Regions from separate parts of the Homo sapiens genome. Here region 1 is linked to region 2. Evidence: fine-mapped expression QTL. Tissue or cell type: skeletal muscle. Region 2 holds a variant in brackets; the other region holds the start of a gene. All regions are shown on one strand. Distances are from middle to middle.

Region 1 (2,685 bases), 57 kb after region 2:
TGGATCACTTGAGGTCAGGATTTCAAGACCAGCCTGGGCAACATGGTGAAACCACACCCCTCCACTTCTCTACTAAAAGTACAAAAAATTATCCGGGCGTGGTGGTGGGCACCTGTAAACCCAGCACTTCGGGGGGCCAAGGTGGGCGGATCACTTGAGGCCAGGAGTTGGAGACTAGCCTGGCCAACCAACATGGTGAAATCCCATCTCTACTAAAAATATGAAAATTAAGTGGTGGCTTGCGCCTGTAGTCCCAGCTACTGGGAAGGCCGAGGCACGAAAATCGCTTTAACCTGGGAGGCGGAGGTTGCAGTGAACCTAGATCGAGTCATTGCATTCCAGCCTGGGCGACAGAGCGAGACTCTGTCTCAAAAAAAAAAAAAAAAAGTTCCTGGAACCGTTTCTGCACATCACTGAAAAATGATAGCCTCTCCCCAAATATCCTAACTTAAAGGTGCTATTAGGAGAATCTTGCTGCCTGCTAATAATGGGGTGTCCATAATTACCCCATGACTTCAGTGAATTCTCGTGCCTGTTTCTCCCGATCTAAAATGGGTATATTTCATTTACTAAATTTACTTCTGAGTACTGTTGGGGAAAAGATCCCGGTGTTTGTTGAAGAATGCTAGATATAATGAAAGTTAAACACAGTTTAACAAATTAAAATTATTCCCTATTGCTCTGTAATATCTAATTGCACACTGCTCTACCCCAGACCATTGTATTATCTCCCCGCCCCCCCCCCCAGAATATCATGAAATGCAACATATTTGCTAAACCAGTTTTGGTGATTTAAAACAAGTTCCAAGCACAAGCTTCTTTCTTGTAATGGTCAAGTGGCCTACGAAACCAAAGCGCCAACTGAGAACGTTTTGCTGCTGCACTCTGAAATCCCAGCGAGAACGCAGGCAGCGATGGCAGTTCTGGAGCACCGGGTTCCACTTCTGCCTCTGACCGGCTTTGTGACTTCCACCACATTAGATCTGAGTTTCCTCCATGTAAAATGGGGCGGGAATGGAGGCTGGACCTGGGAGGTGTCGCTGATGATCGTCTCTGACTCGCTAAGTCGCGGAGTCACAAAAGTGGCGGAAAGCATGCCCTCACTTTTTGGGAAGAGTAGGACGAGGGGCGGGGCTGCAGCGAGACCCACCAGTCTCGCTTTCCAGGGCAGGCGGCGGCCAGGAGCTACAGCTGTGGGCTGCACTCCCGGCGTGGAGTCTCCTTCCTGCCCGCGCAGGCCCCGGCGCCCCAGCGAAACGCTCCGGCCGCTCCCCTCTCCCAACACTCTGGTTCCCGGGCCGCCTGCGGGGACGCGGTTGGCGGCGACACCGGAGGGGGGTGGGTCAGGAAGTGGGGGCGCGGCGGCCAGGAGCGGGCCCCCGGAGGCCGAGGGGTTCGGCGACGCGGAGGGAGGGAGAGTCTGGGCCGCGCGGGAGCCGCAGGGCGCCCTAGCCTTCGCAGAAACGATGGCGGAGGAAGAAGGTGATTGCCGCGGGGTCCAGCGCGCCAACGGCTGCCAGTGGTCTCGGGAAGGAGGGGCGGGGGCGCTGGAGGTCTGGGTTGGAGCTGCTGGTGGCCGCGGTCGCGGTGGCGGCCGCGCGGGCAGGGCGGGAAGGAGCGCGGCGCCCAGGAGAGGACTGCGGAGAAATTCAGGAGAGCGGAGCAAATGGCCCGAAGTTTTGTCGGCCGAATTGGGAAGCAAAGGTGGAGCTGAAAGTTGGGAATCCGTAGCAAGAGAGAAAGCTGTGCCGGGAGTGGTTGGGAAAGAGGGAGGGTCCTGATCAGATTCTTGGTGAAGTGGGAGGCGCAGTTTGGTTTCGAAGATCAGGTTTAGGTACTCAGTGCATATTTGGAATGCGATTTTTAAAGGGCTGTGGATATTGACAAACCCAGAGGCACAGGGGGCGAGGGAACATTCACCACGGGGATAAAGAGGCAGGGATTTGGGATAAACGTGGCAAGATTAATTGGGAATGGGCGAACACGCAGAAACTGAAGAAAGCCAAGTTCACTTAGGTTCAGGGGAAAATGGTAAAGAGCAGAGCCATCTAATTATTATAGTTTTGGGAGATGATGAGGCCAGGAGGCCTTTGAGGGTCAAAGTGGGTGAGCTGGAGAAAGGTTTCCATGCCGCCTTCAGGATCAATGCTAAGATAAGTAATTCATTCAGCAGTATTTTATTTATAGAAAATGATAAGTATGAGACAAAAATGGGAAGTTAGATGAAACTTATCGGTTAGTGATAAACAATACAAGGAATACTCATGGCATAGTAACTTCATGATAACCCCTACTAGTTTCAGGAAGTGAGAAGCAATTAGATTTTTGCATTCTGGTGGAAAACACAACTTTTTACCTTATGAGTGGAGCTGTGGATGTGATAGTAAATCGATCTAATTTAGACTCAAGCCCCCCTGCCTTTTTTTTTTTTGAAACGGAGTTTCGTTCTTGTTGCCCAGTCTAGAGTGCAAAGGCGCGATCTCGGTTCACCGCAACCTCCGCTTCCTGGATTCAAGCGATTCTCCTGCCTCAGCCTCCCTAGTAGCTGGGATTACAGGCATGCGCCATCACGCCCGGTTAATGTTATATTTTGAGTAGAGACGGGGTTTCTCCATGTTGGTCAGGCTGGTCTTGAACTTCTGACCTCAGGTGATCCGCCCACCTCGGCCTCCCAGAGTGCTGGGA
Region 2 (2,685 bases):
CAAACCAAGTTTGAGCTATGTGTTTCAAAGAGTATACTTTTGGTAAAGAAGCACATTGGCCTGTGTTGGCTCTGAGTGCTTGAATTGTTTCCAAAATTTGCTGTCTAGAACTAGCATCTGCTGTCATCAAAGGTGGACTATCCTACAGGGCTCCAAAAGTGTTCTATAATAGAATTTCTAAGCAAAAGTGGCATTGTGGAAGTAATGTCACATCAATAATCTGTGGTGTCCATTTCAAACATTAGGCCAAAAAAAAAGTCATTTAATACCTTGTAGTGTTGATAATGTCACCATATCATGAAGTCGGCATGGTCATTGCCTTGTGTGTGCTGTAAAGATTCAGAGGATGAAATATTCTAATTAACTTTGTTGCATACTTTGATTCAAAATGAAATGAAAATGCTCAGTATTCATTTGCTACAACTGGGTAAATAAAAATTGTATTCCTGGTAATATCTCAGCACTGGATTGATTTGCCTCTTTTACCCAAAAGGGCAGTTGGAGCCTAAGTTGAATGACTGACTGATGGGAGGCAGCCATTCTGAGATTTCTAAAGGAAGCTCAGCTAGATCCATCTTCTTCCTCTTGGCTTGGTATAGGTTTAATTTTGATTTAGAAGTAACCTGATTTTACCTTTCCAAAGTGTTTCCTTAATTTAATCTCACAGATTTAAATTTTGAGAAGAGTAGTTCAGTCTCTCGATATGGAGCCTCTCAAGTTGAAGATATGGGGAATATAATTTTAGCAATGATTTCAGAGCCTTATAGTAAGTATTGCTTTTATAGTAGTGCAGTCCCAGAATTCATACTATTTTTCTCTTACCTATACTCAAATTTCCTCCTACAACTTTGTCTCCCTAATCACTAAAATGATGACTTTTATGTTCTCATTTTTAGATCACAGGTTTTCAGATCCAGAGAGAGTGAATTACAAGTTTGAAAGTGGAACTTGGTAAGTGCTTGAGTACTATTTATTTGAGCTTTTTAACTTGTTTTTTTTTTTTGTCTGTTTGTTTGTTTTTGAGACAGAGTCTTGCTCTGTCGCCCAGGCTGGAGTGCAGTGGCACGATCTCAGCTCACTGCAAGCTCCGCCTCCCG[G/C]GTTCATGCCATTCTCCTGCCTCAGCCTCCCGAGTAGCTGGGACTACAGGCTCCCGCTACCATACCTGGCTAATTTTTTTGTAGTTTTAGTAGAGATGGGGTTTCACCATATTAGCCAGGATGGTCTCAATCTCCTGACCTCGTGATCTGCCCGCCTCGCCTCCCAAAGTGCTGGGATTACAGGCGTGAGCCACCTCGCCCGGCCTTTAACTTGTTTTTGTTCATATTGTGCCTCTTAATTCTTGTTATATTTGAGAAACTTTACTAATCCTTTTAGCTATCCTTTCTTGCTGTTCGGTCATCTGTAAAAGAAGGTTGTATTACTTAGAGCTTGATATTGGGAATAAAATGTAATGACTTACTGGCATCTTTAGTCACCCTGACCTTAAGTATATTATATGCTCATATCTGTGATTGTTATTTTGGTCTCCCCAAACTATCCGATCTTTCATTTAGAAAATTTCCAAAGGAGAAATTGTAGGCTTTAATAGAGTTCACAATTTTTACTGAGATAAAATTTTACGTACATTCTATAAGTACATTTATTTATTTATTTATTTTAGTTTTGAGACACTTGCTCTGTTGCCCAGCTGGAATATCGCGGTGTGATCTCTGCTCACTGCAACCTCCGCCTCCCGGGTTCAAGCGATTCTTGTGCCTCAGCCTTCCCAGTAGCTGGGATTACAGATGTGTACCATCATGCCTGGCTAAGTTTTGTATTTTTAGTAGAGATGGGGTTTTGCCGTGTTGACCAGGCTGGTCTCAAACTCCTGGCCTCATGTGATCTACCCACCTTGACATCCCAAAGTGCTGGGATTACAGGTGTGAGCCATTGTGCCTGGCTATATAGGTTTCTACTTTAAAGCCAAGGAAATAGCTGGGGAGAAGTATGAAGTGGTGTCTGTTAGTGATCGCAGGTAGACCTGTTTGTAAATCACTCTAATGAATTGAGTGTGTGCTTGGTCTCTGAAGTGAATAGAAACTTCTGACAGCTTTGCCCATAGAGAGAGACTTTGAGGCCGATTAGTTGTGGAGAAAGTGACTTATTAAGAAAATGTCCTAGGAGAACTGAAAATGTGAACGTGGGAGGGATAAGACATCAAAAGGTGTCAAAATATATAATAAGTGATTTGCAAATGAGTCATTAAGGTGTAGGGACTCACAGGCATTTCTATGGACATTCTCTGGGATGGCTCCCTGGTTTGATCTGGGGGATATTTTAATGGCAGACTTCCTACCATGCACACACATTCCTCATGTGGGTTAATTGTCAGCTTTATTCTGATCCTAAATTCGGCTGCTAAACTGGATTTAAACCCCACATGTATACTGTCTAGATTTGAGAATGAATTCAAACCTATCTTTTGGGGTTCTAGGAACTTTCAGGACATGAGGGTGCCAAGCAAACATTTCCTCAGCTTTTTTTTTTTTTTTTTTTTTGAGAGGGAGTCTTGCTCTATTGCCCAGGCTGGAGTGCAGTGGCACAATCTCAGCTCACTGCAGCCTCCACCTCCCAGGTTCAAGTGATTTTCCTGCCTTGGCCTCCCAAGTAACTGGGATTATAAGCGTACACCACCATGCCCGGCTA

Alleles and levels. Alleles are on the strand shown, and positions count from the first base shown. SD is a standard deviation of normalised expression in the study named.
In carriers of allele G in region 2, the expression in skeletal muscle of the gene that starts at base 1,368 in region 1 tends to be lower than with C alone (small effect, 0.18 SD a copy in GTEx).

What was found. PIP is the estimated chance that this variant, and not a neighbour inherited with it, causes the effect.
Region 1: it holds the start of DPY19L4, and the variant in region 2 is fine-mapped to the expression of DPY19L4 in skeletal muscle (GTEx, PIP 0.96).

Annotation. Positions count from the first base shown.
Region 1 is chr8:94,718,533-94,721,217 of GRCh38, forward strand. DPY19L4 (dpy-19 like 4) reads left to right here and starts at 1,368. Exons shown (of 19, transcript NM_181787.3): 1 at 1,368-1,482. The coding sequence starts at 1,467. RefSeq lists an enhancer at 461-1,415 and a silencer at 1,176-1,495.
Region 2 is chr8:94,661,605-94,664,289 of GRCh38, forward strand. It overlaps ESRP1 (epithelial splicing regulatory protein 1), which reads left to right. Exons shown (of 16, transcript NM_017697.4): 5 at 668-766; 6 at 897-951. Among named protein-coding and RNA genes, the nearest start is that of ESRP1, 22 kb to the left of the region's middle. The variant G/C (reference allele first, on the strand shown) is at 1,098.